7 linked regions of the Homo sapiens genome follow. The protein of the gene in region 1 purifies or fractionates together with the protein of each later gene. This does not show direct contact. Each region holds a gene or a part of one and is shown in the gene's direction. Other genes may lie near its edges.

What was found.
Region 2: the proteins of THSD4 (region 1) and OFD1 purify together in Homo sapiens (affinity purification with mass spectrometry; one large-scale study listed by BioGRID and IntAct). This does not show direct contact.
Region 3: the proteins of THSD4 (region 1) and KRABD3 purify together in Homo sapiens (affinity purification with mass spectrometry; 2 studies listed by BioGRID and IntAct, with this or other methods). This does not show direct contact.
Region 4: the proteins of THSD4 (region 1) and ZNF609 purify together in Homo sapiens (affinity purification with mass spectrometry; 2 studies listed by BioGRID and IntAct, with this or other methods). This does not show direct contact.
Region 5: the proteins of THSD4 (region 1) and ALMS1 purify together in Homo sapiens (affinity purification with mass spectrometry; 2 studies listed by BioGRID and IntAct, with this or other methods). This does not show direct contact.
Region 6: the proteins of THSD4 (region 1) and GLI3 purify together in Homo sapiens (affinity purification with mass spectrometry; one large-scale study listed by BioGRID and IntAct). This does not show direct contact.
Region 7: the proteins of THSD4 (region 1) and CEP164 purify together in Homo sapiens (affinity purification with mass spectrometry; 2 studies listed by BioGRID and IntAct, with this or other methods). This does not show direct contact.

What each region holds. Positions count from the first base shown.
Region 1 is NC_000015.10:71,237,471-71,240,970, forward strand, and holds part of THSD4 (thrombospondin type-1 domain-containing protein 4 isoform 1 precursor), read left to right. Parts: intron 1-3,500. UniProt on the Homo sapiens protein: Promotes FBN1 matrix assembly.
Region 2 is NC_000023.11:13,762,248-13,765,747, forward strand, and holds part of OFD1 (centriole and centriolar satellite protein OFD1), read left to right. Parts: intron 1-96; coding exon 97-197; intron 198-1,468; coding exon of another isoform or gene 1,469-1,470; exon of another isoform or gene 1,471-1,497; coding exon 1,498-1,608; exon of another isoform or gene 1,609-1,612; intron 1,613-3,500. UniProt on the Homo sapiens protein: Component of the centrioles controlling mother and daughter centrioles length. Recruits to the centriole IFT88 and centriole distal appendage-specific proteins including CEP164. Involved in the biogenesis of the cilium, a centriole-associated function.
Region 3 is NC_000007.14:149,721,451-149,724,950, forward strand, and holds part of KRABD3 (protein KRBA1), read left to right. Parts: coding exon 1-85; coding exon of another isoform or gene 86-393; exon of another isoform or gene 394-590; intron 591-923; coding exon of another isoform or gene 924-971; coding exon 972-1,103; intron 1,104-1,332; coding exon 1,333-1,506; intron 1,507-2,283; coding exon 2,284-2,439; intron 2,440-3,201; coding exon 3,202-3,399; intron 3,400-3,500.
Region 4 is NC_000015.10:64,673,578-64,677,077, forward strand, and holds part of ZNF609 (zinc finger protein 609), read left to right. Parts: intron 1-338; coding exon 339-2,679; intron 2,680-3,500. UniProt on the Homo sapiens protein: Transcription factor, which activates RAG1, and possibly RAG2, transcription. Through the regulation of RAG1/2 expression, may regulate thymocyte maturation.
Region 5 is NC_000002.12:73,444,836-73,448,335, forward strand, and holds part of ALMS1 (centrosome-associated protein ALMS1), read left to right. Parts: intron 1-3,124; coding exon 3,125-3,500. UniProt on the Homo sapiens protein: Involved in PCM1-dependent intracellular transport. Required, directly or indirectly, for the localization of NCAPD2 to the proximal ends of centrioles.
Region 6 is NC_000007.14:41,964,710-41,968,209, reverse strand, and holds part of GLI3 (transcriptional activator GLI3), read left to right. Parts: intron 1-286; coding exon 287-614; intron 615-1,568; coding exon 1,569-3,500. UniProt on the Homo sapiens protein: Has a dual function as a transcriptional activator and a repressor of the sonic hedgehog (Shh) pathway, and plays a role in limb development.
Region 7 is NC_000011.10:117,326,541-117,330,653, forward strand, and holds the start of CEP164 (centrosomal protein of 164 kDa), read left to right. Parts: upstream 1-1,313; 5' UTR 1,314-1,364; exon of another isoform or gene 1,365-1,668; intron 1,669-4,113. UniProt on the Homo sapiens protein: Plays a role in microtubule organization and/or maintenance for the formation of primary cilia (PC), a microtubule-based structure that protrudes from the surface of epithelial cells. Plays a critical role in G2/M checkpoint and nuclear divisions.

The sequences.
Region 1 (3,500 bases):
ATCCGGACTTGAGTGTGTTGACTTCGAAGTGACACGTGGAGCTATCAAAGTGCAGTCCCAGGACCCACCACATCAGCTTCATCTGGGAGCTTGTTACAAATGAAGCAGAGGCCTGTGCTAGACCCGCTGAAGCAGAAGCTGGATTTTAGTGAGACCCCCGGGTGACTTATGTGCACTTTTCAGGCTCTAGTCTGGAGGTTAGCTAGGCACATGGGGTTGATGCTCGGGAGAGGGATCTTGGCAGGAAACAGAAAGGCGGGAGTTGTCAGTTCCAGGTGATGATTGCAGATGACACATTTCCAGGGTGAGTGTGTAGGGAGGGAGACTGGATGGAGTGACTTTGCTTGAGTCATGCTGACTGCTTAGCATTATCTTTGTAGAGCTGTGGAAGATCACACATAACCAGCCCTGGATGGCAGCCAGCCTGTTGTAAGGAAAACATGCTGTTTGCAGCCATTATCTCAACAACTATTATAGCAACAGCAATTTTCCCAGACGCCCGTTGGATGAACTGGGCCTGGAACCTGGACTTAGAACCCTTACTGTGCACTGTCATGTTCTTCTCATAGAGCCCTACTTTATGGTGGTGTGGGGGCGGGGTGGGGGTGTTCCATGTACTTACGTTGTCAGGGCTGGAAATGTGAACAAGTGGAAAAAAAAATCACACATGATGCTCAATAGGCACTCATAGAAGTTGCTCAATAAAGGTTTGTTAAATATTGTTGAAACAAATCATTAAAAATTGCTTTCAGATTTAAAAAATGCATTTCTATCAGTAAGTTCAATTTGACTTTACAACATCCTTGTAAGTAAACATGCTTTCTTAAAAAAAACTTTATTGAGATATAACTTACATACCGTAAAAATCACCATTTAAAAATACTATGTAACTCAATAGTTTTTGGTATATTTACAAGGTTGTGTGACTATCACGACTATCTAATTGCAGAACAGTTCCATCATCCTAAAAAGACACTCCATCCCTTTAGCAGTCACTCTCTTTTCCCCTCTCTCCCCAATCCCTGGAAACCACTCTCTGTCTCTATGGATTTGCCTATTCTAGACATTCTATAGAAATGGAATCATATGTGTCTGGCTTCTTTCACTTCTTTCACTTAGAATATTTTGTAGGTTTATCTATGTTACAGTATATATCAGCACTTATGGCTGAATAATAATCCACTCTGTGGGTATACCAATGTTTTATTTCTCTCTACATCAGTTGATAGGCATTTGGGTTGTTTCTGCATTTTTGGCTATTATGAATAATGTAGCTATGAACATTCATGTATAAGTTTATATACAAATGTATGTTTTCATTTCTCTTGGGCATATACCTAGGACTGCAATTGCTAGGTCTTGTGGTAACACTACATTTAGTCTTTTGAGGAGCTCCGAGATAGTTTTCCAAAGTGACTACACCATTTTACCTACCCACTAGGAATGTATGAGGTTACCAATTTATCTTTCCCAACACACTATTATCTGTCTTTTTTGAGTATAGCCATCCTAGTGAACATGAAATGGTCATGCTCTCATTTTACAGCTAAGAAAACTGAAGGTGCATTATTTGCCAAAGTTGGTAGAGCTATTAAATAGCCAAACTAGAGCTTTTCTTACATAAAGGCAAATACTTGTATGATGCATACTCTGTGTGAAGCATTAGGTCATTTGCTCTTAAGTCATTTAATCTTTGTAACTATCTATAACAAAGGTACTATTATTGTGTTTATTTGTAAATGAATACAAGGCCAGAACTGGGCTTGGAGTGCAGCTAGGGAGGTTCTTAGGGTGCAACATTTAAGAAGACATTACTCTCAGGTTCCTACCAGCACTTCCACGACCCTGACTGTTATCTCCTTAAATATTGCATCCTAGTTGCTTCACTGGCCTCATCTTAATCCTGGTCCTGTTTGAAGAAACTGAGGCATACAAAGATTGGGTAACTTACCCAAAGTTTCCAAACTAGCAAGTAGCAGAGCTGGGATTCAAACCCCAGAAAGCTGGCCTCAGGGTCCATGTCGTGAACCACTAGCCTACACTGACTCCCACATCTCTGATCTGCAAACTGTGCCTTTTCCATTTCTTTCTCAAGACATAACTTTCAGAAATTAGCCAGTGCTTTGACAAGTGGAGCACCTAAAGTAAAATCCCAGAGATGGGTTCTGGGGAGACTAAGCCGAACTACTCAACAGCTCCCCTGGGCGCCTACCACATGATTCTCCTGAAGGAGTTTACTGGCCACACAGATCGCCTCGCCACATCTGTACTTATCATAGCTCTGCATAAATCTCCCCAGTTCCGTGGAGGCCCCCCTGCAAGCGGCCAGATGGACTCTGTCCTGTTGGAGAAGAGGCCATTCAGACCCGTCAGGATTATTAGCTCTGACCAGCTGTAAGGAAAACAAACGTTCTCCTGGCCAAGCCAGAATGAATCTGCCACTTGTCCAAATGTTCTGAGTCAAATACCTAGAAATCAGATCTCTCATAAACACACCCAATTTGGTAGCTCATGCTCTTTGGTCTTTTAGAATTAACTGGTCATTTGCATTCATTTCGTCACCTTTCCAATGCTGTTGCTCTGTCATTGGGTTTTGAATGGTTCTCCAATTTAGGCAGAGCTTCCCACAAGGCAATATGAATACAAAAATATACATTGGTGCTTGTATATTTTACCCCCTCAGGCCTTTGGGAAGATGTTTACACAAGTCATCAGCCAACAGCAGGTTCTTCTTCTGCTCCCCAAGAGGAAGCTCAAGTCAGTTTTGGTTCATCAGTGCTGAGTGAGCTCCAGCAGGGCAGCCTGTCCCGGGCCAGCAGATCTTTTGTATCTGCCTCAAACTCAGAGGTTTTTGGTTTGAATTTCATTGCCATTTTTCCTTCATTAAAAATGGTAATTTGCAGTGTTGAATTTTCACCCTTTTGTTTGGAATTTCTATTTTATTCTATGACTGATTATCAAAGCTGTGGGTCTGTGGACCAGCAGCATTGGCATCTCCCAGGAGCTTGTTGGAAATGCAGACTCTCAGGCTGCACCCTAGATGTCCTAGATCCAGAATTTGCAACTTAACAAGATCCCAGGTGATGCCTGTGAACACTCAAGTTTGAGAAGTGCTATTCCACATGTCCATTTCTCTGTTACCTTCAGCTAGGGTCTCCATTCAGTACTTACTTTGAGGCTAAAATTTTTTGGTAGACTTTCAGATCTTAAAAAAACACACATACGCAGAAATTCTTTCCTTTGCCTTTGCATGATGTCATTCATTTTACCTGGCCTGCCACAAGAAAGAAAAAGGCAAATTATATCCAAGTTTTATATATATGTGTATACACACACACACACACACACACACACACACACACACACACATATATACATATATATGACTAACTTCTTAATTGCATCTCTTAAAACCCCCATCGTTAACAGAGTCCCAAGTGTTGCCAAGATTAATTGAGAAAGACCTAAATGCAAAATAAACACTGTGGCGTGGTTTAATT
Region 2 (3,500 bases), on another chromosome or scaffold:
TAGAGCCTTTTCTTGAGTCACAAAAGGCTTTTTGTCACCTTGTACTCTTTGGTTTTCCATTATTGAAACTTCACGAGTTTTATCCTTCCAATCTAGTCTTTATCGAAGACAAACTGAACTTCAAGACAAAAGTGAATTTTCAGATGTGGACAAGCTAGCTTTTAAGGATAATGAGGAGTTTGAATCATCTTTTGAATGTAAGTTCAAATATAAATACCAGTTTTTATATGTTGAAAATCTAGAAAGCTTAGTTTTGGTGAAACGTATCCATTGGTTTAAAAAGAAAAGCAGTTACAAATTGGGTCATTATTATTTTGTGATACAACCACAAGTACAGATGTATCACCTCATTTTTCTACCATGATGATTTTCATGTGTGTGTTTACTTTTTAAAAATTTCAGTATGACTAATAATTTCAGAGTTTGAGCTAAGCTTATAAATGAATTATTAACTTATCAGATTTTAAATAAGTGATTTTTATTTATTTTTTCCTTTGATGGAATACAAGAATGTTTATTTTTATTTTTTTGAGATGGAGTCTCTCTCTGTTGCCCAGGCTGGAGTACAGTGGTCCGATCTTGGCTCACTGCAATCTCCCTCCTCCTCCCAGGTCCAAGTGATTCATCTGCCTCAGCCTCCCGAGTAGCTGGGACCAACCACAGGTGCATGCCATCACACCCAGCTAGTTTTTTTGTATTTTTAGTAGAGATGGGGTTTCACCATATTGGCCAGGCTGGTCTTGAGCTCCTGACCTCAAGTGATCCGCCTGCATCGGCCTCCCAAAATGCTGGGATAACAGGCATGAGCCACTGCGCCCGGCCTAAGGATGTTATTTTTTAAATATACTGATTCAGTTGATTGCCTCAGATTTAGAAAACCTCATTTTTAGTAAAAGAATAGAGATAAAAGAATATTAAGAGTCCAGAAACTGGTGTCCTGGCTATGGCCCTGCCTTAGACTGTCTTACTTTGTAGCCACTTTGTAAGTGTAAAATAAGCATGTAGAGCCTATCATCTCTAAGGTTCTTTCCAGCTTGAGAAATCTTTATATTTGCATATAAGCTATTGGTTAGCCTTGTAAACTTCATCTTCAAATCTGAAAGTGTTAATATTTTGAACAGTTAAATGAGAGGGCTTGGTAAATTTTGTAAATATTTGTTAAAGTCTTTGTGTTAAATCATTGATATTTTAATAGAATTCAAATGATGATCAGCAAGCCAATTGAATTCTTCACTGTCACTGGGTTGATTTTCCTGTTGGGTAACGAATCTCATTTTGTAAACAAAGTTAATTCTTTCAACTACGAGAACACTCTGACAAGCAAATACGTTGCCAAGTGGTTATGTTGGGAACTTCATAGAATCCTGTTAGGAAAGGGCGCACCCAGTTACTTTGGCTTCAGTTCCCGTGCTCCAGTCAGTTGCCCCCACACTGCACTGCCCTTCTTTGTCTTGGTGTTATTATTAAGGACTCATGGGACAATTGTGCCTCATGCAGCTGCAGGGAACATGCCAAGGCAGTTGGAAATGGGCGGGCTTTCTCCTGCCGGGGATATGTCTCATGTGGACGCTGCTGCAGCTGCTGTGCCCCTCTCATATCAGCACCCAAGTAAGTTCTTTTTTTGAACTAACAGTCAGCAGGGTCGCATACTAAATACCAGTCCGTGTGCTCTGTGAATTATTTCATGTATCACTGAAGTCATCTTGTAGGTGTAAATTAGTCAAAATCTTGGGTTGGGGGTTATAGGTGTCATTATATTGTTAATGACATTTCTGAAGTAATTCCCATGTGAACATGTAAAGACAGTGCTGAGAAAGGACACGTTGGAAGGAAAGGCTTCTCATTTAGGCTTCCCAGGCCAGTTGCTTAAAAAGTGTTTTCATTTACTCTTCAGTGCCTGGCATAGTAGTTGGACTTTTCCCCAAGACTCTTCTGCAAAAACTGTTCCTTGGGAACCTTAAAGTTTGGGAAATCACAGTGAAAAATTGAAATAATAATTAACTCCCAGCATATATCTTTAATATGATTGTAACATTTAAATATTATTTATTTTTCTATCTACTTGTTTCCTTTGTGTCTTAAGAAATTAGGACAGAAAAACTTCGTATTTCAATCTTTGGAAAAGCTGTGACACCGAGTTAGCGTAGCACTGGAGGAAAACTGGCCATCAGACTTCTCTTCTCTGGCCCACTTCCTCTTTTTCCTCTTCTCCTCCAGATTACCCACTTCCCTCCCTGCGGGTGGAGGGAGACGGGAAGAGAGCCGTGGGAGCTTTGTGCTTTGTTCCAGGGCTCAGCCAACAGCCAGGTCCTTTTCTTCTTGGACCAAGTGTTTAATCCTCAAATCTGAAAGGAATTTTCTCAAGTAAAGCCACCTCTTAGTCCCTCCCAAACGTTGGAAAAACATCATACCCAAAACCCCTGTTAGCAGTTTCTTGGTTTTAGTCATGGTACCCAGGAACATATAAAATAACTGAAAGAGGCAAGAGATTTTGAGAGGGTTGATGTTGCTGATTCCAGAGTAAATCTGCTTTGGAAAGCATTCAGTGAGACATGATCTAGAGCCTTGTCTCTGCTGGGCACTTTGCTCAGCGCTGAGCATATAGCTCAAGCCCTCGCCTTCCTGGATTTCTAGCAGGGGAGGCAGATGGTCAGCAGGCCATCACCCAGGACCGCAGCAGGGAGGGGCTGCAGCAGCTGAGTAGGGGCCGTGGCCACAAGAGGGAGTGTCTACAGGCACTCATTTGGCACAGACCTGAGCGAGGGAATACAAATAATGTGATAGGATAAGGGAAATCAACTGAGTAACTAGGTGTTCTGCTGCTGAGATGGAACATAGATTATAATATTTGCTTTAAAAATTATTAAGCAGCATGGCGAGTGACATTTTAGTTATTGAGAAATTGTTATATTTGTCATTTCATCTCTTCATCTGGGCACAAAGGGAATTCAAAAAGGTTGAAATTTGGTGTCTCGGAGGTGCCCCGTGGACATGCTTCCTTCCTTTCCCCTTGTGTCCAAGAGATTTCTGTATACCACCCTGCAGCTACAAAATATACACCAGAGTAGAGAAGCAGCTCACTCTTCCTCTTTATTTTGTAATTGGTGCTTAAACAACATTCCTATTTTGAGATTACTATTCCATATAAGAAAGCAATCTTGTTTAGGAGTAACTATTTTTTCTTCTCTAGCAAGGAGGAAGTTGCATTTCTGCCTGTGGAAATGATCAGCTGTCTCCTCTGGTATTTTAATTTCATGAGAAGGATTCAGAAGAGATGGGGGAGAGAGAGAAGAAACTGTGTTGCTTCTCTCCTATTAGTAAAACTCAGTTCCTGCTGATCACTTTAGAACAAGGCACAGCAAAAAGGTTCAAAGTCCTCTGCTGAACCTATGAATTTTTCTACTTATTAGCATTGCTTGGGTTGAAAAAAAAAATGTAGGTTATGGGTCAGAGCCAGAAGAGAAAGGTCAGCATAATTGTCTCTGGGATTGGGGTCTAAT
Region 3 (3,500 bases), on another chromosome or scaffold:
CCCCACCTGGCCACCACGCCCACCGACAGCTCGTGTTCCAGTGGCCCAACTGGTGACGGGGTCCAGGGAAGTCCTCTCCCCATCAGTGAGTCTGACACAGCAGGGACAGGGAGAACCAGCATTTCAAAAGCCCTGATCGTGGCGTCAGAGGACCTGGACCCTGTGCCCTCTTCATTTTTTTCTAGGACTCAGTTCCCCTGTTGTGCTGTTCTTTTGTTAACAAAGTACGCCAGGGAGCAGGACAACATATTTAGCCTCTGGTGTAACCACCAAAGAGGAGGCATGATGCTCAGCCCCTGGGGAGCCTGTCATCCCGCCCCGATCACTGAGCACTTTGTACACAGAAAGTCTCCGGCAGTTTCTAACATGCAGGCCCACGGCCAGCAGCATTGACCTACCTGTGTGCACTGGTCTGATCCTTAGACCGTCTCATCACAGCAACCCTAACTGCAGAGCAGGGCAAGGGGAGCTCCTAGGATTTCTCTGGGGTCTCATTTTATTTTTAAAACTTCTCACAAATTTTGCATGTCTGTTTTTATAAAAAAGTACTTCAAATTTATATGGAATAAAATTGGCACTCCCAAAGAGCATACCCCATTTAGCTGTGGTTTCATCTGGTGTTCAGGGGTCGTCGGGCACACTTGCTCTGGGGTTCTGTGTGCCCTGTGTGTGCCCTGGTTTGAGAAGCGTGAGTGTGAGATTGTGGCCTACATGTCAAGGCTGCCGGCATCACTTCCTGAGCCAAATTCCGAGGCTGGGCTCAGGGGGAAGGGTCTGGGAGTGTTCACAGTGAACCAACAGTCTTGCTGTTTCCAGTTAAACCAGAAAGAAACGGTAAAGGCCCTCAGCCCACCTCGAACAGGGACTTGGGTGGCTGGAGAGGGCTGTCCTCTATGGGAACCAGATCTGGTGTGATTTTCCAGAGTCTGGAGCTGGGGCTAGAAAGGCCCTCTTGTCTTCTCCTGCAACAGAAACTGCCGACAAACCGTGGCCTACAAGGAAGGAAGGCCCAGGAGCCCTGGGCGGGGAGCCCAGCCCTCCCACCCATAGCCCCAGCAGGAGGAAGAGCCACAGAGGACAGGAGAGAGGGACCTCAGAGGCCGGTGAGAGGCGGGCTTTCCTTAGTGGGGTAGCGATGGGGAAGTGTGTTTAGTTCACACGAGGAGGTCATGCTGCTCCGCCGCCTGGGCCTGGTGGCAGCTCCACCGGGCAGGCCTTGTCTGCATTCTCACGGGTGGGAATCTCAGCCGCCCGGAGACCTGAATGCCTGCCAGCGCTCCCGGTGTCCCGTCAGGACTGCACTGACCCAGGCCCACCTTGCATGTGCCACAGGAATTTCTCCTGGGAACAGCCCCTTGCAAGGCCTCATCAACTGTCTGAAGGAAATCCTTGTGCCTGGGCCCCGGCACCCCGAGACATCCCCAAGCTTCTTGCCACCTCTCCCTAGCCTGGGCACGTCCAGGCTAACCAGAGCAGACCTGGGGCCTGGGAGCCCGCCCTGGGCAGGTGAGTTCTGGGGCCTCAGGCTGAGGTCTCTGAAGCTTGGTTTGCATTTCAACAGCGATTCCTCCTGCTCCAAACTGTCTCCCTTAGGGATCGTTACCAGCTTGGTCGCTGCTGTGTTGCCAGTGTCACCTTTCTGGAGCCAGGTGGCTCTCTTAAGGGCAGCGTTTGGTCAGCTGGGAAAAGGAAACTCGGAAGCAGGCTTTGCCCTGGTTTCTTCATGTCTCTTCCTCCTCCTGACTTGGGACCCGAGGGGAAGAGCTGCAGAGCTCATGTGTTGCTTTGCATTGACGCCAGGCATGATGCATGGGGTGGGCTTGGGCTCTGGACAGCATGGTGGAGGGGCCGGGGCACAGGTCTTGGAGTCAGACCCGGAGAGGCTCCTGATGCCTTGAGCCTAGGCTGTTCCCACTCACAGGGCCGCAGTGAGCTTAGCTGCAGTAATGTACTTACTGTACAACTCCATTTTCCTCAAATGTAAGTTCTGTTCAGGACCCCAGAGCTGTCTCAAACAGTGACCCTGACAGCCCACTTCCTTCAATTTGTCCTCAGAGTGATGCCACTTGTCTGCCTGCAGGGCGAATTCCATGGCTTCCCTCTTTGCCCTGTCCGGTTCTGGCAGGTGTGTGGACCCAGGCACTGGGAAGACTCAGCGAGCCACTGGAAGAGCCTCATCTTCAGAGTTGGCCCCACGCCCTTCTAACTTGTCCCCTGTTTGTTGTTTGTCATGAAGGCTGAGGACACTGAGCTCCAGGTGAAAACATGTTCCTTTTTCCTTAGTGAAGACCGAGGCGGTTTCAGGGGATTGTCCCCTCCAGGGTCTGCTACACTGTCTGAAGGAGCTCCCCGAGGCCCAGGACAGGCATCCCAGTCCCTCAGGAGTGGGGAACCGACGGCTACAGGAGAATCCAGGAGCCTGGAAAAGGGGTTCTGGAGGTAAAGGCTTCTCGCTGGGCTGGGAGGGCCCCCAGACATCCTACATTACCCTGCCCCAGGCAGGGCTGTAGGTGGCCCCCACCACAAACACTCAGGCCCCCATATTGGCCTGTCGGGAAGAGGATCCGGATGCGGGGGATCCCCACTGTGTAAGTGGAGCGAGCTGTGTGGGAGGGGCTCGGTCAGCGCTTGATAATTCTCAGGCTGGCTCTTAGAGGAGGAGCTGGACATTCTGAAAGGAAAGTGGGGAGGGAGCGAGATCAAGAAATAGAGGATGGAGCTCTAGCCCAGCACACACGCAGCTCCTCATTGTGGCTTGGGGTCCTGTGTGTTTGGGTCAGGTTTCTGCCATGTGTGTGAGAGCTGGGAACCCCAAATCCTAATTATACCCACCCAGCCCACACAGGGGTTCGTGTTCCGTGCATGTCACCTCAGCTTGTTAGCTTCTCAGAACAAAGCCCTGAGCAGCTGGGTTGAGTCAGGTGTGCTGGCCATGGAGAAAGACATGATTGGTGCTGTCTGGGGAGGGCTGACTTCATGCCTGGTAGAAACCTTGGAGGCACCCCAAGGGGCCATGGTAGGGGAGGAGGCGTGTGACTCAGGTCTCTGCTGGTGATTGACAAGTGACAGCAGTCTGAGCCGGTGACTGCCGTGGAGGCACAGGGGCTTTGGAAGCCCCTCCTAACCCTATAAAGGCCTCAAGGGATTCTCAGGGTGAGTCCAGGCCTGAACCTTGGGCTTCCCAATGGCCTCCTCCCGCAGGGCCTGGATACCTCCTGACCCCTCCTCCCCATCCTGATCTTGGAGCTGGCGGTCTGCTCTCTGTGAAGATGGAGAACAGCTGGGTCCAGAGCCCCCCAGGACCTGCATCCTGTCAGCCTGGCAGGCAGCCCCTCAGTCCCTCAGCCACTGGAGACACCAGAGGGGTCCCCCAACCCAGCTGGGGCCCTGAGGCTCAAGGTGAGGCCTGAGATTGGCTGCTCTGGTGGTCTTCCCCATGGGCTTGTCAGTCCCTGGCAAGGTTCCACTAACCCCAGGGAAGCAGCTCTCAGCAGGGAGCC
Region 4 (3,500 bases), 6.6 Mb from region 1:
GACAAGTCATTTAGCATGCCTGGCCTCAATTTCCTGTATGATCTCTAACATCTTTTCTGAAACCATGACTATGGCTGTATATAGGAAATGTTGACTTGACTATCTTACGGAACAGATTCTGCATGGTTTTAGAGGTAAATGTTTGGGAATAATTTGCAGCTAACGTGTATCCCAGGAGTTCACCATTTAGTGCAATTCACAATCAGAATTTCTTTTAACAAATCATATTCATTGAAAATGATAGTCACCATCTGGACAGTTCTGGAGGCTACAGCTAAACTGCTTTGAAGATGTTTTCTCTTCTTAATAATATTCTGTTGTGTTTATCCTTTGCCAAGGTTCTGTGACTCCCCGACCAGTGACCTGGAAATGCGCAATGGCCGGGGTAGAGGCAAACGCATGCGTCCCAACAGTAATACACCTGTCAATGAGACAGCCACAGCCTCTGACAGCAAAGGGACCAGTAACAGCAGCAAAACCCGGGCAGGAGCCAATAGCAAAGGCCGTCGGGGCAGCCAGAATTCTTCAGAGCACCGCCCACCTGCCAGCAGCACTTCTGAGGATGTCAAGGCCAGCCCTTCCTCAGCTAATAAGCGGAAAAACAAACCCCTTTCAGACATGGAGCTGAATTCTAGCTCAGAGGACTCCAAAGGGAGCAAGCGTGTCCGTACTAATTCCATGGGCTCAGCCACTGGCCCCCTTCCTGGGACAAAGGTAGAACCCACTGTTCTGGACAGAAACTGCCCCTCCCCCGTCCTAATTGACTGTCCCCACCCAAACTGCAACAAGAAGTACAAGCACATCAATGGACTTAAGTACCACCAAGCTCATGCCCATACAGATGATGACAGCAAGCCGGAAGCGGATGGGGACAGTGAGTACGGAGAGGAACCTATTCTCCATGCAGATCTTGGGAGCTGCAACGGTGCATCTGTCTCACAAAAAGGTTCCTTGTCCCCTGCCCGCTCAGCTACCCCCAAAGTTCGACTTGTAGAGCCCCATAGCCCTTCTCCTTCAAGCAAATTCAGCACAAAAGGCCTCTGTAAGAAAAAGTTGAGTGGGGAAGGGGACACAGACCTTGGGGCCTTATCCAATGATGGCTCTGATGATGGACCCTCAGTGATGGATGAAACAAGCAATGATGCCTTTGATTCTTTAGAAAGGAAGTGTATGGAAAAAGAAAAATGTAAAAAACCCTCTAGTTTAAAACCTGAAAAGATTCCTTCCAAGAGCCTAAAGTCAGCCCGTCCCATTGCCCCTGCCATCCCCCCACAGCAAATCTACACCTTCCAGACAGCCACCTTCACAGCAGCGAGCCCAGGCTCTTCCTCAGGCTTGACCGCCACAGTGGCACAAGCCATGCCCAACAGTCCCCAACTCAAGCCCATTCAGCCCAAGCCCACTGTTATGGGAGAACCTTTCACAGTCAACCCTGCCTTGACTCCAGCCAAGGACAAGAAAAAGAAAGACAAAAAAAAGAAGGAATCTTCAAAGGAACTTGAAAGTCCTCTGACCCCTGGGAAGGTGTGTCGAGCAGAGGAAGGCAAAAGCCCATTCAGGGAATCTTCAGGAGATGGGATGAAAATGGAGGGGCTCCTAAATGGCTCATCAGACCCCCACCAAAGCCGACTGGCTAGCATCAAGGCTGAAGCCGACAAGATCTACAGTTTCACGGACAATGCCCCCAGCCCTTCCATTGGAGGCAGTAGCCGCCTTGAAAACACTACCCCTACTCAGCCCCTGACTCCCTTACATGTGGTGACCCAGAATGGAGCTGAAGCCAGCTCAGTCAAAACCAACAGCCCTGCATACTCTGACATCTCTGATGCTGGGGAGGATGGGGAGGGCAAGGTAGACAGTGTCAAATCAAAGGACGCCGAACAGTTGGTTAAAGAAGGGGCTAAGAAAACTCTTTTTCCCCCTCAGCCTCAGAGCAAAGACTCACCATATTACCAAGGCTTTGAGAGTTACTATTCTCCAAGTTATGCACAGTCCAGCCCTGGGGCTCTGAACCCCAGCAGCCAGGCAGGAGTGGAGAGCCAGGCCCTGAAGACAAAAAGGGATGAGGAACCTGAGAGCATAGAAGGGAAAGTGAAGAACGATATCTGTGAAGAAAAGAAGCCCGAGCTGAGCAGTTCCAGTCAGCAGCCCTCGGTCATCCAGCAGCGTCCCAATATGTACATGCAGTCCCTGTACTACAACCAGTATGCCTATGTACCCCCCTATGGCTACAGCGACCAGAGTTACCACACCCACCTTCTGAGCACTAACACGGCTTACCGGCAGCAGTACGAAGAACAGCAGAAACGCCAGAGCTTAGAGCAGCAGCAGCGGGGAGTGGACAAGAAGGCAGAGATGGGCCTGAAGGAGCGGGAGGCAGCACTCAAGGAAGAGTGGAAGCAAAAGCCGTCAATTCCACCAACTCTCACCAAGGCCCCCAGCCTGACAGACCTGGTGAAATCAGGACCTGGCAAGGCCAAGGAGCCAGGGGCTGACCCAGCCAAATCAGTCATCATTCCCAAGTTAGATGACTCTTCAAAACTCCCGGGCCAGGCCCCTGAAGGCCTTAAAGTGAAGCTGAGTGATGCCAGCCACCTAAGCAAGGAGGCCTCTGAGGCCAAGACAGGTGCTGAGTGTGGTCGACAGGCAGAGATGGATCCAATACTCTGGTACCGACAGGTAACTGTTGCCCTGGGAGGAAGTGGAAATACCGTATGGTAATCGTCTATCTTCCTCACAAATAAGGGCTGTCCTTATACAGGGGTTCAACGGAATTGAGATTAGCAGGAGAGATGTATAATTTTAAGGATTCTTTACCTTTGTAAACTATTTTAATGTTTTTTATTTTATTTTAGTATTATTATTTTTTTTGAGATGGAGTCTCACTCTGTTGCCCAGGCTAGAGTGCAGTGGTGCAATCTTGGCTCACTACAACCTCCGCCTCCCAGGTTCAAGCAATTCTCCTGCCTCAGCCTCCCGAGTAGCTGAGATTACAGGCACACGCCACCATGCCCAGCTAATTTTTTTTGTATTTTTAGTAGAGATGGGGCTTCACCATCTTGGTCAGGCTGGTCTGGAACTCCTGACCTCAAGTAATCCACCTGCCTCAGCCTCCCAGAGTGCTGGGATTACAGGCATGAGCCACTGCACCCAGCCAATTTTTATTTTATTTTATTTATTTATTTATTTATTTTGAGATGGAGTCTGGCACTGTCACCCAGGCTGGAATGCACTGGCGCAATCTCAGCTCACTGCAACCTCTGCCTCCCAGGTTCACACGATTCTCCTGCCTCAGCCTCCCGAGTAGCTGGGATTACAGGTGCACGCCACCACACCTGGCTAATTTTTTGTATTTTTAGTAGAGACGGGGTTTCACCATGTTAGCCAGGATGGTCTTGATCTCCTGACCTTGTGATCCACCCACCTCGGCCTCCCAAAGTACCTGGATTAAGGCGTGAGCCACTGCGCCCAGTCGTAATTTTTTTTATTTTTATGTTTTT
Region 5 (3,500 bases), on another chromosome or scaffold:
AATGAATGTAGAGATAAACATCTATGAGTTAACTGAGGGATTAACGAAATACAACACAATTATAATTATTTAGTTATCAATAATTAATAATTAGGAACTTATAAAAATGATATAGTAATTAATTAGAAAGCAAGAATAACAACAATGAAGACAAAGACCCATTTAAAATATCACTGGTGTCTTTTTAAAAAAACATGAATTTGAGTTTACTTCTCTGTACACACAATAGGTGCTTTTGCCAGACTTTTTAAAAAAAAATCTTTTTTATTTTTAATATTTATGAGAACATAGTAGGTGTATATATTTATGGGGTACATGAGATATTTTGACACAAACATACGATGTGTAATAATCACATCAAGGTAAATGGAGTATCTGTCACCTCAAGCATTCATTATTTCTTTATGTTGTGAAAATTCCAGTTATACTCTTTTAATTTAAAATGCGTTATAAATAATTGTTGACTGTAGTCACCGTATTGTACTATATCATATTCTAGAGCTTATTCATTCTAACTACATTTTTGTACCCATTAACCATCCTCCTCACTACCTTCCCAGCCCCGTTACAGACTTATTAGTGACTGAATTAGAGGGCTCAAAATGAGAGCTATAGTAATTTATTTGTGTGTGCTAGTATTAAAACCCATAATAATTGACTTGGAACGATTACTAGTAAGAGGCTCTTAGTCATATGTAAAATGGAAGTATGGAATTGTACCTCATTTTGTCTGTGAGAAATAAAGGGCTTGCTTATTCTTCTTATGTCAGAATATACTTGGGGAAATAAAACCGTGCTGTCTTCGTCACCTAGGAAGCCTTCTGTGTTACTAAGCACCTTAGTATGGAGAAGAGTTCTTGAGTAAATTGTACCCAGGTTGTTAGTCTTAATGTCATCTCTAAGAGGCATACAGTTCCCACCCAATATACAACTTTGGTGTAGTATAGTCTTTTCTGGCAGCCATCTTCCTCTTCTTGGTCGAAACTTACCTCTTCAACTCACCCCTAGTTCTGAAAATGAATCTCCAAAGATTATATCAGTATGTAGTAATATTGTTAACACTCACACTTAGTGTATTCTTCTTTCCCAGGGCTGAGAGAATAATAAGGACTCTAAAAACATACCATTTTTCATCATGAACTCCTTATGTACATAGACACATTTTATAAATCATAGTTAATGGATTTGTGATCACCATTCTTCTGACAGTTTGACATATATGTCCTTAACTTTATATAGAACTGACAAGAATTCTTCTTTAACATCGTGCATCTCCTCCCTCGCTTTTAACAGCTTAACCTATAGTCGTTCTTCCAGTTTTCTTTACTAATCTTTTCCTTTACCCCTGAGGTTAAAAAGACCTTATCTTATGTAACCTGGATCTTTCAAGGACCTGGGCTGTACATCTTAACTCCTTAGCTATTTATCTCATTTGTCCCCATTCATGGTGTCACTAATAATTTGTAATGGCCAAAGGGATATAAAAACTTTGAGAAATCAGGAAATCATTTAGAAAAACAAGGTTTTGTTTTGTTAATCTGTTTTGGTTTATTAGCTTCTTGAGCCTGTTTTGTTTCCTCACAAAAACTTTTCTTATTTTCTTTAGACCCAGCAGGCAAGAACCTCACAAAATTTTGTAACTCATATTCCTTCTCAGGTTACAATGCATGTTACATTTTTAAATTTTTTACTTTTCTTGAAGAGTTAATACTTGATACTTCTAGTTCTTTACTTTGAAATTCACTCCTCAACCCATTTCATTCTATATTCAGCTCCTTTGAAGCTCGTCAGTGGCCATAGAAAGCCAGTCAGTTGTAGTGGAAAGAGCTCAGAACTTGGATTTAGAGTTTAAGGGTTAAAGTACCAGTTTTTGTCACTTACCCACCTACAATTCTAGAAAAACTATGTATCTTTGCACTTAAAATGTGGTCTGAGGACCAATAACATTGGGCATCCCTGGGGAGCTTGTTAGAAATGCAGAATTTCAGGTCCCACCCAGACCTACTGAGTCAGAATCTGCAAGTTAACAAGATCCCAACATTGAGAAGCACTGTTACATGGTCATCTTTGCAACTCGGTTTCCCTATACGTAAAAAATAGATAATACTTGCTCTATATATCAATCATCTTAACACCATCTGACACATCATATGTTTTACCAATTTATTGTCAGCCTCCTCCTGCTAGAATACAAATTAGCTCTGTGAGGTAGGGATTATTGTCTGTTTATTGCTGTATGTAGAACAGTGCCTGGAACATAGTAAGCATTCATGTATTTTGAATGAACAATGAATGAAGGGACAGCTTGTCAAATCCTGTCATTTCTGTTGCAGTCACTTACTTTACACTGCTGTTTAAAACTGCTTTCATTTAGAATTATTGTATTAGTGCAAATATAGAACATTTCTATAGAAATGTTTGTTGGATTGTGCAACCTAGATTTTTACATTCCCTTCTCACTCATCTTGAAAACTTTAAAACTGTAAACAACTTGCCATGCTATACAGAATTAAGTTAAAACTCTTCAGAGTAACCTTTAGAGTTTTTTCAGTTTTATGTACTTAAATATATATATATTATACAGGGTGCATTTGTTGGGAGAGTCCTTCAAACTCACTGCACGCATAGCATCCCTCTAGGCCATATTGTACTGCCCCTGTGGGACTTGGGGGCAGGAGGAACCCGTGAAAATAAGCTGATGAGCCTTTGCTGTACCAGGGATCATGAAGTCTTTTGTCTCTGACTGAAGACCTTATGTCTTCTGCCAGCCTGCAAGACACAATAACAGATTGTAAGTAGGGTGAAATCAAATCCTAGACCCAATAGCATTATCCCATCTCATTGAAAATTCTCTTAAAAATCCAAGTTGTAAGATCCATATAATATTTCATCCACTGGATATACTGTTGTTTATAACCATTACTCTGTTGTTGAAGATTAAAATGTTTTTACTTTAGTTTTCTAATTAATATCTTTGTGTGCAAATATTTATCTCCTTTGATGGCTGTTTCCTTAGGATTCATTTCTAGAAGCTTTTTAAAGGCTCAAAGCTGGCTTTTTTCCAGCACATAGAATTTTAAAATAGAAAATTTTATATACTATTAACAAATCTCTTTTTCTTTAGGAGACACTTCTAAAGGAGGCATAGCTAAAGTTACTCAATCCAACTTGAAGTCAGGCATCACTACCACTCCTGTTGATTCAGACATTGGATCTCATTTATCCTTGTCCCTTGAGGACCTGTCTCAGTTGGCTGTAAGTTCTCCTCTAGAAACTACTACTGGTCAACACACTGATACTCTCAACCAAAAGACATTAGCAGATACTCATCTAACTGAAGAGACTCTGAAAGTCACAGCTATTCCTGAACCAGCTGACCAGAAGACTGCAACACCAACAGTACTCTCTAGTTCCCACTCACATAGGGGGAAGCCCAGCATTTTCTACCAGCAGGGCTTGCCAGACAGTCATCTAACTGAAGAGGCTTTGAAAGTTTCAGC
Region 6 (3,500 bases), on another chromosome or scaffold:
GTCTGCAGAGTTGGCGATTGGGGCAGGATTCCATGGCTGATACCATGCCAGTCACACTGCAGCTAGCATTCTCTGCTTTCCATTGCCTCCTGTTGCCCATCAGCCTGGTGGTCCATCCGTCATTCTGGCCAAAAGTGGCCAGCTCCATTCACCAGAACATAGTTTTTCTTCTCATTCAACCAACTGATGATCTTGAAGATCTCGATATGCATGAGCTCTCATTATTGGCTCCCTTTCCTTGACCCTCCCTGGTGACATTTCTTTCCTTTCCACTTGACCCCAACAGACATCTCAGCCAAGCCCTGGTGGTCAGTCTTCATGCAGCAGCCAACAGTCCCCCATCAGCAACTATTCCAACAGTGGGCTCGAGCTTCCTCTGACCGATGGAGGTAGTATAGGAGACCTCAGTGCCATCGATGAAACCCCAATCATGGACTCAACCATTTCCACTGCAACCACAGCCCTTGCTTTGCAAGCCAGGAGAAACCCGGCAGGGACCAAATGGATGGAGCACGTAAAACTAGAAAGGCTAAAACAAGTGAATGGAATGTTTCCGCGACTGAACCCCATTCTACCCCCTAAAGCCCCTGCGGTCTCTCCTCTCATAGGAAATGGTGAGTTCTACATCAGACCATGCATCTGCTCAGGGTTTTTTTTTCTGTTCTTTTAAATGCAGGCCCTCAGTTTTATGTTTGCTAGTTTCTCCACCAGTCCTAAAATGACGCTGTAACCATCCGTTAATGTTTAGCCCATTCAAGTTGCCTTTTGGGATTGTCCATATTTTAAAAACAGCTAGGAACAGGATAATATTGAGAAAAAAATGTGACTGTGCATGACTCATATTCTGATGGTGAAATCATAACTGTTAGATTAGGGTAAGGGAATGCCAGCAGTGGAGGCATCTGTGGTTGGAACTCTGTCTCTGGTTTCCAAAATTTAAAACCACGAGGTTAGCAGCCACTTTTATTTATATTTACCCAGTTCAAGGAAAGTCAGAAATCCCTCCCCACTGTCAGTCCCCAGGTCAGTTTGCACTTCTGAGATTACACTTCTGAGAGCACCTAAGGGGTGAAGCTCTTGCCTGCACCAACACAGGTGTTACCTGTTGGTAGGATGTGGCATGAACAGGACGCCCTGAGCGTGAATGTGAAACTCGTGGAGTACCTTTGCCTGGGGACTTGCCTGGAACTCAAGCGTTGTGTACCATCACAAGATTCTTTTTGTCCTTGCACAGCGCTTGGGGAGGGGCTTCAGTGAATCGAGGGAGTTGTTATTGTTTTGTTTAAGCCAGGCATCAGCAAACTACAGCCTGCGGCCATCTCCAGCCGCCCCTGTTTTTGTAAAGGAAGCTTCATGGACACCCCGCCACGCTTGCTTGCTCACTGCTCTCTGTGGCCGTGTTGGGGCTACACTGCAGAGCTGAGTAGTTGTGAGGCAGGCAATGTGGCCTGGGACACCAGAAATAGTTCCTAGCTGGCCCTTTACAGAAAAGGGTTGCTCATGCCTGGTGTAAGTCATGCTCGAAGGGAATTCATCTCCGCATGGTCTCTCCCTTTCTCTGTCTCCAGGCACACAGTCCAACAACACCTGCAGCTTGGGTGGGCCCATGACGCTTCTCCCGGGCAGAAGCGACCTCTCTGGGGTGGACGTCACTATGCTGAACATGCTCAACAGAAGGGACAGCAGCGCCAGCACCATCAGCTCGGCCTACCTGAGCAGCCGCCGCTCCTCAGGGATCTCGCCCTGCTTCTCCAGCCGCCGCTCCAGCGAGGCGTCACAGGCCGAGGGCCGGCCGCAGAACGTGAGCGTGGCCGACTCCTACGACCCCATCTCCACCGACGCCTCGCGCCGCTCCAGCGAAGCCAGCCAGAGCGACGGCCTGCCCAGCCTGCTCAGCCTCACGCCCGCCCAGCAGTACCGCCTCAAGGCCAAGTACGCGGCTGCCACAGGAGGGCCGCCGCCGACGCCCCTGCCCAACATGGAGAGGATGAGCCTGAAGACGCGCCTGGCGCTGCTCGGGGATGCCCTCGAGCCTGGCGTGGCCCTGCCTCCAGTTCATGCCCCGAGGAGGTGCAGCGACGGGGGAGCCCACGGCTACGGGCGGCGCCACCTGCAGCCGCACGATGCGCCGGGCCACGGCGTGAGGAGGGCCAGCGACCCGGTGCGGACAGGCTCCGAGGGCCTGGCCCTGCCTCGTGTGCCGCGCTTCAGCAGCCTCAGCAGCTGCAACCCCCCGGCGATGGCCACGTCCGCGGAGAAGCGCAGTCTCGTGCTTCAGAATTACACGCGGCCCGAGGGCGGCCAGTCCCGAAACTTCCACTCGTCCCCCTGTCCTCCCAGCATCACCGAGAACGTCACCCTGGAGTCCCTGACCATGGACGCTGATGCCAACCTGAACGATGAGGATTTCCTGCCGGACGACGTGGTGCAGTATTTAAATTCCCAGAACCAAGCAGGGTACGAGCAGCACTTCCCCAGCGCCCTCCCGGACGACAGCAAAGTGCCCCACGGGCCCGGTGACTTTGACGCGCCCGGGCTGCCAGACAGCCACGCTGGCCAGCAGTTCCATGCCCTCGAGCAGCCCTGCCCCGAGGGCAGCAAAACCGACCTGCCCATTCAGTGGAACGAAGTCAGCTCCGGAAGCGCCGACCTGTCCTCCTCCAAGCTCAAGTGTGGGCCGCGGCCCGCTGTGCCGCAGACTCGCGCCTTTGGGTTCTGCAACGGCATGGTCGTCCACCCGCAGAACCCCTTGAGGAGCGGGCCTGCTGGGGGCTATCAGACCCTCGGGGAGAACAGCAACCCCTACGGTGGCCCAGAGCACTTGATGCTCCACAACAGCCCCGGAAGTGGCACCAGTGGAAACGCCTTCCATGAACAGCCCTGTAAGGCCCCGCAGTATGGGAACTGTCTCAACAGGCAGCCAGTGGCCCCTGGTGCACTCGACGGTGCCTGTGGTGCCGGGATTCAAGCCTCAAAGCTGAAGAGCACCCCCATGCAAGGGAGCGGGGGCCAGCTGAATTTCGGCCTGCCGGTAGCGCCAAATGAGTCAGCTGGCAGCATGGTGAATGGCATGCAGAACCAGGACCCAGTGGGACAGGGGTACCTGGCTCACCAGCTCCTCGGCGACAGCATGCAGCACCCGGGGGCAGGCCGCCCCGGTCAGCAGATGCTTGGGCAGATTAGTGCTACCTCACACATCAACATCTACCAAGGGCCAGAGAGCTGCCTGCCAGGGGCTCACGGCATGGGCAGCCAGCCGTCAAGCTTGGCAGTTGTCAGGGGCTACCAGCCATGTGCCAGCTTTGGGGGCAGCAGGCGCCAGGCTATGCCGAGGGACAGCCTTGCTCTGCAGTCAGGACAGCTCAGTGACACAAGTCAGACCTGCAGGGTGAATGGTATCAAGATGGAGATGAAAGGGCAGCCCCATCCGCTGTGCTCTAATCTGCAGAATTACTCTGGTCAGTTCTATGACCAAACCGTGGGCTTCAGTCAGCAAGACA
Region 7 (4,113 bases), on another chromosome or scaffold:
GGATTACAGATATGAGCCACCAGGCCCGGTCGATAGTTTTTGTTATCAGGTATTCATGCGTGAGAACCCTCTCTTCATGGTCTTCCCTGGCTCCATTTGTCAGGGTTTTAAAACAAATGACTCTATTTTGATTTTGATAATTTTCACAAGGAATATGCTCTGTATATTCCAACAATCTGAGTTTCTCATCCTGGAATCAGCCTCTGAGTGGCACTGGGACTATCCTGAGTCAGCTACATCTCTAGAACCTATCAGGAGCGGCTCTATGAGCTTGGCCTCATCATTTTCCTCCTCAACTAGCAGCATCTGTATTTGTCTGTTTCTCAGTTTTCCTATTGATGTAATGGCCAGAACTTTCTTTGCCCCTCTTAACTTCTCTAGGAGGTTGGAGACATATGAGAGAAAGGAAGATTTGCCCTCCGTGCAAGCAAAACTAAAACTCTTCGGAATTATATTAGTAGCAACCTTTCTGCCCGACAGGGTGTGTGGAGGAGCTACACATTGTGTCACTTTTTTTCTTCTTCAATAGACTCTTTGAAATAGTTATGACAGACATTACTATCCCCATCTTGCAGACATACAAACTGAACCCTGGGCTTTGGTGAAAAGATGGATAGTAGAAAATAGGTTTAACTCCTGGTCAGGTGCTCACTGGTTTAATAGGAGCACAGGAGAGCCAGTTTTTTTGCGGGGAGAGATGGGGAGTGGACGCGTCTCCATTACCTTACATTCACATTTGTTTTGTTGATTAAAGTAACAATGGGTTGATTATTGATGACCACTGTATTATTCACCTGATGTTAATCATACTCCTAACAAATGATCAATTAGATAATTAGATAATTCACATTAGTATAAATACTCTAAATAGTCCTTCTCTGTCCTGGCAGAAATCCTCACGTCTAAACTCGGGGTCCTCTTTTTTTTTTTTTTTTTTTTTTAGTAGAGAAGGGGTTTCACCATGTTGGTCAGGCTGGTCTCGAACTCCTGACCTCAGGTGACCCACCCGCCTCGGCCTCCCAAATTGCTGGAATTACAGGCGTGAGCCACCGCGCCCAGCCGATGAGGTTCTCTTTCAACCTCTTGCGGATTCCCATTATCTATCTTAAACTACACTCTTTCAACCTCTTGCGGATTCCCATTATCTATCTTAAACTACACTCCCATCGTGCAACGGAAAACGGACAGAGCTCCTGCGTGCACCGAAGGGACTTCGAGCCAATCCATTGTCACAGCTCTCAGCCGGCGACCTATTGGCTCCTGCTGGAGGCGGGACTCCCGGTTGCTAGGCGGTACCTTTTCCGGAAGTGTTTGTTGCGCGCTGCAGGGCAACACCCCGGCGTCCCTGGAAGCTGGGGGAGCGGGTGGGTGTTGGGTGGCGTTGGGGGAGCTGCGCCTCGCCCAGAGCCTCGCCCGGAGCCTCGCCCGGAGCCTTCCGGGGTGGGGGATAGTTGAGGACCTCATCGAGGGAGGGGTTGGGCGGCGGGGAAGGGAGCGAGCGTGGCGGGGGACCCGAGGCACGCTCTCGAGCCAACGAGCGTGATGCGCTCGAGTGTGGGCGGGGACTGAGGGAAGAAGTGAAAATCGGACTGCCAGGCGACAGTTCCTCCGTTTGAAATCTCGCCGGCTCCTGAGCGGGCCACCGGGCCCGGGCTGGGGGTCTGGCGGGTGAGTGAGCAGCGGGTCGGGACGCGGGAGAGGGGCACTGGGCACGGGGCCCTGGTTTGCTTGCTCTGTTCATCGTTGGCGAGTGAGGCCAGGCCTTCCGAAGCTTGCTGGGATACTTCTGTGGCAGGCTTCCCCCCGGGTCCAAATCCGGGGCTAGCCCAATCTTATGCCATCTTTGGCCAGCTGGGAAAGTTGGAAAGCTTTTTTGTTTTTTCCTTTTCTTGCATTGGATTTAAAAATGTCCCTCTACCTCTGGCACCGCTCTCCTCACTTGGCTTCAGCGACTCCCTGTCCGTTCTCCTAACTCAGTCCTTGGCAGTAGAAAGCTCCCTTCTACTCGGCGCACTCCATCTCTTGCGTTATCAGCTTTTCAGCGTTGACTCGCCAAACTACTCCAGCCAGACCTCTTTCCTGAGCTCAGACCTGCTTACTGTCATCGTCAGCCTTCCCCGGTCCCTCCGATCTGTTTCTCCTCTTGTATTTTTTTATCTCAATGAAGGGCTTCACCATTCACTCAGCCAAGTCTGTCCCTTTAATTTATTCATCTAATAAATACAGCAAACATTTGTCGGACATGCCCTGTCTTCTAGGCAGTGTAGTAGGTGGGGCTGCCTATTGGACGAGGCATAGAAATGAACACATCTAGAAATGATAGTCACAGTGTTCTGGCTTTAGTGCTCTGATTTCCCTCCTCTCTCCCGAAGTTCAAGTCCTGTATTCTGCCTCTTAATTCCCCTAGAATCTGGCGCTTCCTTTCCATCCTCACAGACACTGACTTAGTTCATAATTTCTTGCTTGTGCTTTCAGGATAACTTCCTAAGTGGTCTCTCTGCCTCAGTTCTTGTCCTCCTGTAATTAGTTCTTATGCAGCTGTCAGAATCATTTATTTATTTTAGAGACAGGGTCTTGGTATGTTGCCCAGGCTGGAGTGCAGTTGGTATTCACCGGTGTGACCCTAGTACACTGCAGCCTCGAACTCTTGCCCTCAAGCCATCCTCCCACCTCAGTCTCCTTAGTAGACGGGACTACAGGCATGCACCACTATTCTTGGCTAGAATCGTCTATCTGACCTACAGATCTGGTCATGCCAGTCTCCTTTGTGAAATCCTGTGATGGCCCCTCATCATTTACAGGATAGAGCCTCTGTTCTTCCAGGCCCTTTATAATATGCTCTTGCCTTTCATTCTAGAGCTCTGTCTTGCCACTCCTCCCACTGTCCCTTGCACTCTGGTCATGTCAGAATGGTTAAGAGTTTGGGCTTTGGAGTCAGACATGGATACTTACATATTCTGCTCTACCGTTTATTAGCTGTGACACCTTGGGCAAGTTTGTTTGTTTGTTTGTTTGTTTTGAAATAGAGTCTTGCTCTGTCGCCCAGGCTGGAGTGCAGTGGTGCGATCTTGGCTCACTGCAGTCTCAGTCTCCTGGGTTCAAGCGATTCTCCTGCCTCAGCTTCCCGAGTAGCTGGGACTACAGGTGGGCACCACAACTCCTGGCTAATTTTTTGTATTTTGGTAGAGACGGGGTTTCACCATGTTGGCCAGGCTGGTCAGGATCTCCTGACCTCATTATCCGCCCACCTCCGCCTCCCAAAGTGCTGGGATTACAGGCGTGAGCCACTGCGCCTGGCCTTTTTTTTTTTTTTTTTTTTTTTAACTTTGCTAAGCCTCAGTTTCCTTATTTGAAAAGTGAAGATAATTCTATTTTGCTGAGTGGATGAAGTGAGATGATGTATATAGAGCACTCAGTACAGTTCCTGTAACATAGGAAGTGTTCAGTGGCTATAAGCTTTTGTTGTCATAATTAATTCTTTGCACCCACCTTATGATTTTCTTCTTTTTTGCCTTTGTGCATGTTGTTCCTCTGCCGTGAATTCCCTTACTCCGCTTATCCTGGGGATCACCTGCTTATCCTTCAAGAACTATCTCAATTGTCCTCTGTGAGGCTTTCCCTGATCTTCCTAAGATTATTTGCCCTTACCTTTGTGTTCTGTTATATATTATGTTACTTCCTTTAATTCATGTAACACATTTTGTAGTCATGTGTTTACGTGTTTGGCTTTCCAGGTAGGCTGAGCTCAAGTTCAGGGCCATGTGTAATCAGGTTTGTAGCCCTAACACGTCGCACAATGTCTGGCCCATGGTGGGTGTTCAGTAAGTGATTACTTGGCGCGGTGACTCACGCCTGTAATCTCAGCACTTTGGGAGGCCAAGGCGGGCGGATCACCTGAGGTCAGGAGTTCGAGACTTGGCCAACATGGTGAAACCCCATCTCTACTAAAAATACAAAAATTAGCCGGGCGTGGTGGCAGGCGCCTGTAATCCTAGCTACTCGTGAGGCTGAGGCAGGAGCATCATTTGAACCTGGGAGGCAGAGGCTGCAGTGAGCAGAGATCGTGCCATTGCACCCCAGCCTGGGTGACAAGAATGATACTCTGTCTCAAAA